Regions from separate parts of the Homo sapiens genome. Here region 2 is linked to region 1. The links come from fine-mapping of genetic effects on gene expression. Tissue or cell type: whole blood. Region 1 holds a variant in brackets; the other region holds the start of a gene. All regions are shown on one strand. Distances are from middle to middle.

The links. PIP is the estimated chance that this variant, and not a neighbour inherited with it, causes the effect.
Region 2: it holds the start of SMG7, and the variant in region 1 is fine-mapped to the expression of SMG7 in whole blood (INTERVAL, PIP above 0.99).

What each region holds. Positions count from the first base shown.
Region 1 is chr1:183,521,890-183,527,646 of GRCh38, reverse strand. SMG7 (SMG7 nonsense mediated mRNA decay factor) reads right to left here. Exons shown (of 23, transcript NM_001375584.1): 5 at 880-1,051. Among named protein-coding and RNA genes, the nearest start is that of SMG7, 52 kb to the right of the region's middle. The variant C/T (reference allele first, on the strand shown) is at 2,329.
Region 2 is chr1:183,469,035-183,474,791 of GRCh38, reverse strand. It overlaps SMG7 (SMG7 nonsense mediated mRNA decay factor), which reads right to left and starts at 2,293. Exons shown (of 23, transcript NM_001375584.1): 1 at 2,143-2,293. The coding sequence starts at 2,171. SMG7-AS1 (SMG7 antisense RNA 1) reads left to right here and starts at 2,810. Exons shown (of 5, transcript NR_040063.1): 1 at 2,810-4,072; 2 at 4,252-4,327; 3 at 4,993-5,118. RefSeq lists silencers at 2,306-2,455, 4,428-4,617 and an enhancer at 2,611-3,242.

The DNA of each region.
Region 1 (5,757 bases):
GAAGGGGTGAGTTATATGGCACTTAAAAACAAAACAAAACAAAATACACTATACAATATGATCTGAAAATTATGTATTTTTCAATATTTTATAAAGTGATTTTGAAAAATGTCTCATTCCTATTGCAATATTAAATATGTGTGTGCAAAGATTATATTTAAAGCAAAACAACCTAAACACAGTATCAATGAATCTCCCTGCCAAACTCACTGCTTACTCTGATGTGACCTCCTCATGGAACCGCTGACTTACAATATTAAGAAATCTAAAATTTCAAACTTAAAAGCAGTAATGTTCTCCATTCTTTGTTATTTGAGGACAAGCAAAACATAATCCTATAGTTAATTTGTTTTACAACCTTTCTAGGTCACCTTAAAGGAATGAACAAGAATAAATAAGTTATATAATATTCCCAGATAAAATGCAAATAATAGAAATACAAATTAAACTTTAAAAAGGAAGCAAAATTAAAAATCAACTTTTAGTCCATTGGTAAGAAAGAAAGAAGGCAATTTCGCTTCAGGAGTAATTTATAAACCTCATTTATTCCAGAAGAGTACATTTAATTTAGAAATTATGGCACCACTTTGAAAAATTAAGCTTTGATTATGTTTTTGCTGTTTATTATTTGCCTATATAAATTACATAAAGTTGGAATAAAATTTAAATCTTAATATGAAAGTTACTTTCTTCACGATGCTCTGCCAATCCCAAAAATATTGAGAAATTTTAAGTTCCTTAGAATACATTTTATAGTTTCTTCTTATGACAATCTAAATTGTGTGTGTATGCTCCGCTTAAAGGAAAACAGTTTCTTTCTATGACTATTCCAAAGAAAAGGAGGAACATATTATCAATTCCTTCACAGCAAAGGCTCACCAATGTCTCCAAGGTGGACGAGGCAGTGCTGGCAGATATAGGAACAGGAGCTAGACTGTGGCTTCACTATGGCGCTGGTATGCGTCTGTTTATTGCTGATAATTCCCAATTGGGAAGACTTCACACGGCATGGTAAATCTACATTAAATACTGTACACAGTTCTTGTAATAACTAAAAGAAAAACAAACAAAATTTAGTAGTAAGTCACAAGTGCTCTAAAAGTAAAGTTTATAAACTGTAAGATGTGTACCTAGTACCACATACTGCTGAAATCTGAACAAAAACTGCATGAAAATTATATGGTAATCTTTCGGGCCTGGCACAGGGGCTCACGCCTATAATCCCAGCACTTTAGGAGGCCAAGGCGGGCGGATCACTTGAGCTCAGGAGTTTGAGACCAGCCTGGCCAACATGATGAAACCCCGTCTCTACTAAAAATACAAAAAAAAAATCAGCCGGGAGTGGTGGTGAGCACCTGTAGTCTCAGCTACAAGGGAGGCTGAGGCACAAGAATCGCTTGAACCCAGGAGGCGGAGGTTGCAGTGAGCCGAGATCACGCCACTGCACTCCAGCCTGGGTGAGAGAGCAAGACTGTCTCCAAAAAAAAAAATATATATATATATATATATTATACGTTAATCTTTCACAGGATAACTAGTATCATTCATTATAAATCATACCTTTTGAATTCTCAAGTATTACAGCAATCTAGGATGTGCATACAGCAGCATTTTAAAAAAAGATTATTTAACTGGATAGGATTTTCAGACACGATTTTCAGACACATTAAGCAAGCAAAGAAAGCTACTACTCTCAGAAACCCAAAAATTATTAAATATTGGTTACAAATTTGACTTAAATGTAAGCCAAGGTATTTGTCAGACTTTAGGTATTTCTTGCAATTTATTTTCTTAAGCTGTATGCCAATTCACATGTCTTTGCATATACAACGAATCTCACCGTAGTGTACACCTTTACTGTATCACCCATTCCTACCTCCTCTCTTCTCTGTTCTTAAAGTATGAGGGGCTCTTCTTCCTAGTCAGAGCTAACTCTTCTGCCTATGTGTGCCTATTGCTACATTCTTTTCTGGTTCCTGTCTGTCTCCCACCTCTCCATTCTTTCATCTACTGTCAACTTTTCATGCTTCTTTCCTATGGCCTACACACCACGTCTCCCACAGAAAAAAACAAGAACAAAAAACAAAACAGAGCTAAAACACTCTCCTCTTGACTTTATAGCAACCTTTTAATGTCTCTCCTTCTTCTCAACCAAATGCCTTCAAAGGAGTCCACACTTTTCATATCTGCTTTCTCAATTTCTATTTACTCCTTAATCCATTATCATCTGGCTTCCACACAACCCCTCTCCCTCCTCTCACCCAACCATCCATTACCACTCTACTGAAACTACTATCAGACAATTGGTTACCTAATAGCCAAATACAA[C/T]GGATATTTTTCAGACATCATCTTATTGGACCTCTTTGCTGCACTTAAAACATCTGATCTTATGGTTGATTACTGAGCTGTTCTAGTTCTCTGTCATCTCTCCAATCACTCCTTTTCAGTCTCCTTCATAGAAAGGCTTTTCTCCTCTCACTTTGCTTGCCAAGGGCTTATTTCTTGCCCCGCACACAGTTCTTCACACTGTGAAGAATATTTACTTCACAGTTATTCAAATATTTACTTACAAATATCGTCATTCAAATATTATTATATTCATCCAAGTATGTGCTAGTATATCAGACACCCAGTAAACAAGAAAGATACAAAGACAAGTAAGAAAATATGTTTCCTTCATGAGCTTGTAGCTAAATGGGCAAGTCAGGTACAAAAAGAGAAGTAGAGGGGAGAGAGGGAGGGAGAGGGAAAAGGGAAAGGAGAGAAGGACAGACAACATGACACACAATATAACCAACAGAATATTCTACATTTATAACGTAACTTATTTCCCTAGGTTATCTGATAAATTTGTCTCACTTTATCCTTGTGATAAACTAGTAGCAACACAGTATACATAGATATAAAGCTCAATTTTTTTCAGATGAGGATGTGAAGGCAGAAATAATCAAGCGACTGGACTAAGGTTATAGAATTAGAAATATTTTGATTCTATCACCACTCTTTCTAGCATGTACAGAATTCAAAATACAAAATAAGACACCCTAAGGGCTCAACTCAGAAGGATCTGAATCATGCCACCTTTTTCCTAAGATAAAAATCACCTCCATAACTAAATATAAATTCTGCGCACCCTTTCTCACTGGGCATGGAAATTATTTACTCCATCTTTACTTGTACATTTGTAATGGGCAAGAAATTCACTAACATAAAATTGGGTAAACAAGGCCAGGCATGGTAGCTCATGCCTGTAATCCCAACACTTTGGGAGGTCAAGGCGGAAGGATCACTTGAGGTCAGGAGTTCAAGACCAGCCTGGACAGCAAAGCAAGAATCTGTCTCTACAAAATAAACAAATGAATGAATATAAAAATGAAAATAAAGTGAAACAAAAAATTAGCCACGTGTGGTGGCATGCAGTGCTATAGTCCCCGTACTTTGGAAGGGTGAGGCGGGAGGCTCACTTAAGCCCCAGAGTTCCAGGCCGCAGTGAGCTATGATATACACTGCACTCCAGCCTGGGTGACAGAGAGAGACCCCGTCTTAAAAAATGAATAAATAAAATAAAATAAAATGAATACATAAAAAAACAGGGTAAATAAGTTAATGTCCTGAACGGGATGGGTTAAGAAATAGAAAAAGCACAAGGCACAGGGCAGGAACAAAAAAAATATATATATGTAAATATATATATACCTACATATATATTATGAAAAAAACAAAAAACAAAAGTGGATAACTAAGAAACATGAGAGGGTTAAAGAACTGACTTCAATAGGTAATGAAAAAACAGACTGGAAAACTAGGCAAGGCTGCACATCTAGCAAAAACAAAAAAGAAAGATCACAAAAAATAAATAAAATTATGGTTGGAACATCATGTAGAATGTCTTGTAATAAAATTTCTGCCTGAGCCCAAGAGTTTAAGTGGTGATATCAGACAGAAAAGCTCCTACTGGCTCAAAGATTCTGAGAAAGAGAGCTCTAGTTGGTTTAGAGGCAGTAACAAGATGGAACTAAAGAAGAGAAAAGGATGTTTCATAAATTGAACAAAACAATGTCCTACCTTCATATAGGTTGACCCTGATGTACATTACTTTGTAGTAGTTTCCTCAGTCTGATAAGAACTTAGTTACTTCATTATACAGAAGTATTGACTGGGAGATATTCCTAAGGCTGTAGCTGAATATTAATGCCTCTAGTTCTTCCCAAATTATAATCATGGAACTATAAAACTGGAAAATGAACCTATAAGCATTTGTCAACTCTCTTTTTTACAATCAGAAAGCTAAGCACCACAGAGGTAGTGACTTGTCCAAATAGTCACAATTAGCCCTAGAGCAGTACTAGAACAGTTTCTGGGTTCCTATTTATCAATTTTTACACTATCTCTTGTCTCCTCAGCTCTTTATTCCATGCCAAGAATGAAAGATTGATTATGAAGGTATAGAATATTACCTTTTAAACTAATACAGAAACTCAGTGATTATACTTTCTTTTTGGTTCCTATTTTCTTAGAATAAAGGCTACCGTTCTGTTCTTTGATGTTTAAAAACAACCTACAGCAGAATGGTATGTCTTTACTTTGACCAGGAATTTGGTTCTGCTTTAAGCCCCATGCTTTAACTGGTTAACAAAATGGTAGCTAAGAAGTTAAAACTAAACCAGCCTGGGTAACATAGTGAGACTCCATTCTACAAAAAATAAAAAAAGGTAGCTGGTATGAGCCTGTAGTCCTAGGTATTTGGGAGGCTGAGGTGGGGAAGGATCACTTGAGCCAAGGAGTCTGAGGCTTCAGTGAGCTATGATTAAGCACCGTACTCAGCCAAAATGATAGAGTGAGCGCCTGTCTTTAAAAAAAAAAAACAAAAAACTAAAAAACTATCTTCACAGAAAATGTTACTGTGGATAACCAAGTACTAGTCTCTTCTCAATCCACTCTAATCAGGTTTCTATCCCCAACACTGCTGAAGTTACATTTCATCAATACAAAGACACCATAAATTATAAGATGAACCATCATCTTATATAATATTGAGAAAAAACCACAAGTTATATGGTCACTTGTCATCTGTTATAAACTTATCTCTATTTCAGATATGTTAAAATATGAAAAAAAAAGTTTCAGAAATGAAGAAATATGGTATTCATTAAGTTCACCAATGACTTTCATGTTGTCAAACCTAATTGGTCACTTTAAATCTTACTTTAATTCTCAGCAGCACTCAACAGGGCTGATGACTCCCTTCCTTATTCAGATGTTTTTCTCTTGGCTTCCAAGGCACCTTCTCTCTCTCATTTTCTTGATTGCAATGGTGGCTCCTCCTGTGCTAAATCTGTTACCATCTGACTAAGTCAGGGTTCTTTACTATAATCATAAAATTTTTATGATTTTATGATGTTTCCACTGGGCTCCAACCTTGTTTATTCAATTGCTTATTTCAAATCTCTACTTAGATGTCAAACAGGCATCTACTTTAATAGGGAAAAAGCTACTTTCCCCCTAGTGTTTCCCATCTCAGTAAATGGTACAACCACTCGACTAGCTGCTCACACTGATAATTGTATTTGCTTTGACTCCTCCTTTACTCTGATTCCAGAAATTCAATCCAATCCATCTAATCCAAGTATGGCCAACAGGAATTAATAGAGTTAACTTCCATAGCTAGCTTCCATAGCTGATCCCTTTATCCAGGGTTATCGTTTAAAAATGCAAATCTGATCATGTTCTTCCTTTGCTTACTTTCCAACTCCAGTG
Region 2 (5,757 bases), 53 kb after region 1:
GTAAGCTCTGTAAAAGGAGGGTGGAGTTGTTCTTTTTCTATTCTCAGATGTTGGTACAATGCCTCCCATACAGGTGATCAACAAAACAACTAATGAATCATGAGTACATGAATGAGCAAATAAACAAAGTCTTTCCTGATTTCCTCCCATTGCTCAGGTGATCTCCTGCCTTTGGACTCAAAACACTTCGTATCTTTTATTTTTATTTATGTATTTACTTATTTATTGAGACGAAGTTTCACTCTTGTTGCCCAGGCTGGAGTGCAATGACGCCATCTCGGCTCACTGCAACCTCTGCCTCCCGGGTTCAAGCGATTCTCCTGCCTCAGCCTCCCGAGTAGCCGGCATTACAGGCGCCCACCACCATGCCCAGCTAATTTTTTGTATTTTTAGTAGAGACGTGGTTTCACCATGCTGGCCAGGCTGGTCTTGAACTCCTGACCTCAGGTGATCCTCCCGCCTAGGCCTCCCAAAGTGCTGGGATTACAGGCGTGAGCCCCCGTGCCCGGCAACGTTTGGTATCTTTCATGGTACTTACACTCTGTGCTGTTTAATTTACTTGCCTAACAGATACTCAACTGCAAATTCCTTAAGACTAATCAGCACCCTGATGGTTTCCATCTCTCTATAGCACCTACAACAGATCTTTGTCATAGCTATATTTATTTGAAATATTAAACAACAAAGGGATATCTAAGATGAAAAAAAGGACCTCAAATTACAGACATCATTCCAACTGTCCTGTGGTCACTGGGCATATATGTTGTGTTAAAATCAAGCATTCAAGCATTGTTCAAATATCTCATCATTCTCTTCTCTCCCTATTATGCTTAATAAAACTTTACTACTTTAAAAATTATAATGGCCACCCTATGTATCAGGTAACTACACACCTCTTGCAATATACATATAGGGATCCACACACGTCAATACTTTCATGTCACTAAACAGCTAAAGTGACTTTTCCACTCATTTCAGACTTCCACCTCATCCAACTCCCTCCTCCGCAAGGTATGAAACAATTTTTTAAAAAACATCTTTCCATAAGGCCTCCCTTTCTTAGTTCTGCTCCTGAAAGACAAAAAGGACCAATTTTAAAGTCTTCCCCTTTTCTAAGCAGTAGTCACTCCCCAGTTAATTTCAGGATCTAACAACCTTACTTTTCTCTATCAAGATTTTTGACCCACTTTACCTCTGCCTCCAAGCTCTTACTCAGCTTCCATGGAACCTTTCAGCTGACACAAAAGCTGGTGTCCTTCCATTCAATATGTTCTCGCCATCAGGTACTAAGTTCAACCTATCTACATCTTCATCCTGAAATGTGCATCAATCGCCGCGCCCCCCACCCCAGACACACATCTCGCACACACACACACTATTCCCATGTGTCACTCTACCTCTGACATACAAGTTCCTTACACCACTCTTAATGAATACACACGACTCTCAGAATGGTATCTTCCGACTACACTGATTCTAACCCAGTTTCTTCTGAAAAACCCAACCTTGTCCACAGTGCCTCCCTCTTTCCTCACTTCCCCATCTATTCCCCTTCACGCCTCCCCACACCGCCAACTAACTACAGATGACATTATTCCTCAATACTCCCAACCCGAGAATGAAGAACAAGCTCCAGTTTCCTGCGGTCTCCCTCTCCCCCTGTCTGCCCTCCGCGGTTCCCCCGCCCCAACACCCCAGGTGTGCAGACTTCCTCCCCGTCCTCTACTCATGCATCGCTCCAACCAATCCCACGCCACACCACGAGTCCCCTGCCACGGGGATCAGACTCCTCCACACCCACCTCCACTCGGGGTCGCCGCCGCCTCCCCGGACGTTTCTCTCCACCCCTCGCTAGCAAACCCGAGACCAAGGGCGCGCGCGCACATTCTCACGCTTCCCCAACCTCCCTCCTCGCACCGGGACGAGCCGGCTTCGCCAGAGCTCAGCCCGGGCGGTAGGGGCTAGGCACCCATACCCGTTCCGCCCCCTCCCGCAGATCCCCTTGCAGTCTCCGCCGACCTGCCCGGCGAGGAGAGGACGCAGCAACTCCCCCGCCACCCCGGACTTACCTCGGTGTCTGTTGCTCCATGCCCCAACCTGCGGCCCGCTCCCCCTACGTACCAGCCCGGCCTCGGCACTCACCGGAGGTACTGCGCGCTCTGCAGGCTCATCCTCCGCCGCCGCCGCCGCGTCTTCCCGCGAAGCCTCCGTGGGTCTCTCAGGCTCCTCGGAGCGGCCCCGCGGCACCGCGGGTGCTGGCGGCCGCCGCCATCTTCCTCTCCTCCGGCTCCTCCTCGCTCGGCAGGGGGGTGGGGGTGAATGAGGCGAGGGGGAGGGAGTGGGGAAAGCTGCTCTCGCTGCTGCTCTGGCCCGTGGGGCGCAGGGACACTCCGACCCGGGGGGGAGGGGGAGGGAGGAGGGGCGGGGGAAAGAGGAGAAGCAGAGGAAGTCGGCGACCGGGCGAGGGAGGGGGTCCCTCTCGCGAGATTTCAGCAGCGCCTGTCCCTCAGTGATTTCCGCCTCTCTGTAGCGCTCCCTTTTGGGATCAACGAGCTGTGTGGCGCCTGTGCGGCTTCTGAGAGACCGGCTGGTGGCGCTTGGCGGCTTCCTGCCAATCCACCCTTCTCCTCCCGCGCAAGGGGGCAATCCCAATCCCACCACCGGGAACACCCAGGCCAAAAGAACGGGAGTTACACTCAAAGTCTTCCCCCTTCTTATCACTCCTGCCGATTTCCCTCTTCCTTTTTGCACGCCTCCACTCTTCCCCACCGGAAACGCCGCCCCTTCCTCCTACAGTTCCTCCCAGCAGTCCCTCAACGCCTGTCTTCCCTCGCGCGTAGAGAGTGACTCGAAGGACCCCCTCTCCTCTTCGCTGCAGCCCCTCCCCATGCACGCTGGGAGACTCTTGGAGGGGATAAGGTGGGGCCCGGAGAGGAAGAGAAGACAATCGGATTGGATAGGCAGCTGCCATGGCAACTGGAGGCTGTGGTTATATTGTCATAGTAACCGATGTGTGCGGACAGGGTCACCCTCCCCTTGGCCAATGGATTCCCAGGAAACCACCCAGGGTTCCCCGTTGGCTTCCCTTCCATCTAAAGGCCTCCCCCAAGTTAGGAATCGATATAGTTCTCCCCGGTGGTGAAGTCCACTTCCTCCTCCCTTCCCACTTCCCACAGCAACTGGGGGGACACCCCGAGGCATTCACCATGGGCTTTTCCACCCGCCTGCGAGCGGGAACCACCTCCGTAGTTTCCTCTCAGAGCCGGGCGTGGAGAGGGCTGGGCCTGCGAAGAGGATGCATGGCCTGGAGGCTGGCGGGCGGCGGGCTGGAGTCGGGAGGGCGAGGCGACAGCGCCAAGCGGCGAGGAAGGGCAAGGGGTTTCCCCACAACTGCCTTGGGCTCTGGGAGGCGGGATCCCGCCTGGACGGGGTCCCTGAGGGAGGAGAGCGGCACACGACAGCCGCGATGCCTTCCCTGCCGACGGGGATAGCCGACTTCTGGCGAGTCGACCCCTCCCCCAAATCCACCCCACCCGCGTACTCCCTCCTGACCTAGCTGTCGCGAGCCTGCCGCGAGGAGGCCAGGGTGAGGGTGGGAACACATCCTAGAAGGCTAACACGTGGTTTTCTATCATTTAAGCCGGGGACAAGCCGGAAGGCTGACTAGCGCCATCACTCTGATAGGCACCCCGCAGTGGGGATCCTGCTTGATTATTAAAGGCAGACCTCCAAGTTCCTCCCTGCTCTGCAACCTTTCTCTTCTCACGGGTCTGCAGTGTTTTAAAAGTCGTCATTCTGTGTCGTTGAGTTAGAGAGGAAAACATCGGATAAAAGAGGATCAAGAAGAACGAACCCTAGATACATCTGTCTGGTGAAAGGAGTCTAGGAAAAGAAGTTTCATTCTTAGAACAAATCTTTTTGGATATTTATTATGTGTGTTTTGTGTCAGGTTTCGGGCCAAAAAGCTGAAATAAAGAACGAAGTCAATAATAATATGAAGTGTATGAGAAATAGCTGGAAAATTCATCATCCATGACTTGAAGAAATTGACGTTTTACAAGTTATATTTTCGGTTCGTATTGTGGAGTCACTTAAGGAGCTATCCCAAAGTACTTTAGGATATGTAACTATATAAAACCTTCCAAGAATGCAGCCCTCATAGGATAGTTAAAATAAGGATTTTAATGGGCTATTTTGATTTGGTTTGGTCTGGTTTGGCTACCTGATTCCTGCTGTCTTTTTCTACGCCAGGTGAAGAGGCACTTTCAAGATCCTTCTCTGAGACCTGCACCAATAAGACTATACCAATGTTCAGTTGAAACATCAGGTATAAGTTTAGCGGAAACGAAAGTACAACCTGCTTTGAAATAAATTCCAAGGACAGATTGTCATTAACGAAATAGAAAGTGGACTATGCCCCTCATGCTGCCAGCGCCTGGTATGGTGCGGCGTGACACGCAGCGCTTGCGGCAGTACAATGCCCCCAATCACCCGCCCCGCCCCGACGCGCCGCCCACTCACGGCAAAGAGAGCCACCTAGTGAGGGATTATTCTCATTTCCGCGGTGGGGTTCTGCTTTTCTTTCTACCATGAGCGCCCAAGGATAGACACTCCTACTACCTATTACCTCAAATAGCCTACATTTCTTTCCGAAAATTTATTGGTTAGATATTTTTCTTTTTTTTTTTTAATTTAAAGACCAGTGTGATCGTGTATTGGTTAGATTTTTTAATTGGTTAGATTTCAACCAGAATAAAAATTGTAATAATTACCCCCTTACTAATCATGGTAATAGCCATTTATGTCTGTGGCACATATCTCCAATAAAGAGTGTATGAACAGTTATCATACATTCCTGATAAGCAATCTAGGAAAATATTACTACTATCTTCTCATTTTGGAAATAGAGAAACGGATCAGAAAGATGAATCCTTTTGTTAGTGTTTGCTGATTTATTCCATAAACATTTACTGAGTACTTATTATATTTCAGACACTGTTCTGGTTATGATGGACACCACAGTGAAAGAGACCTGGTCCCTGCCTTGAGGAAACCCAACTGCTGGTAGAGAGCTCAGAGTAATGATTAGGATGCAATATGAGGGATGCAGTAATTGGGGTAAGAACAAAGTAGGAACACATGAGGTCAGAAATAATAAAGTCTGTGTTTTATAGCAGCTTTCCTAAGAATCTTATAAGAGTCTTCAATAGCTTTACAATATCTCTAGCTAAATAGAAGAATAGTAGTATATTTTAGAGATTAGAAGACTTTGATACTAATATTAAAATTACCTTCAAAAATCAATAGGACTCAGAAAAATTATTACCTTCTATTTATATACTGTTTAATACACATTTTCCATTTTCATCTATTTCCACTTGTCCTAGTCAACAAACTTGTAGAATTACAAACATCTTTCTTTTTGCAATAGATATTGTTCACCTTTTCCCCCCTACAGATATAAGATCACATCTAAACCAAAAGAAATTAAAGAGAAGCTTCCTTACTTACATTAATCCTACCAGATTTTGTTTTTGGGTTTGTCTTTTTGGCTAAGTGATTTCATGGAAAGATCACAAGCTAACGGACCTGAGTATGCATTCTAACTCTGCCATCTTGGTGTCTGAACTTCAGTTTGCTCCTTGACCAAAATGGAAGCATTACCTGTTATAGGCTTCCTGTGACCTTTAATGATGACATACATGATTGAGTGCCCATTATACAACACTGAACTTGATAAACATTAAATTTTTTTCT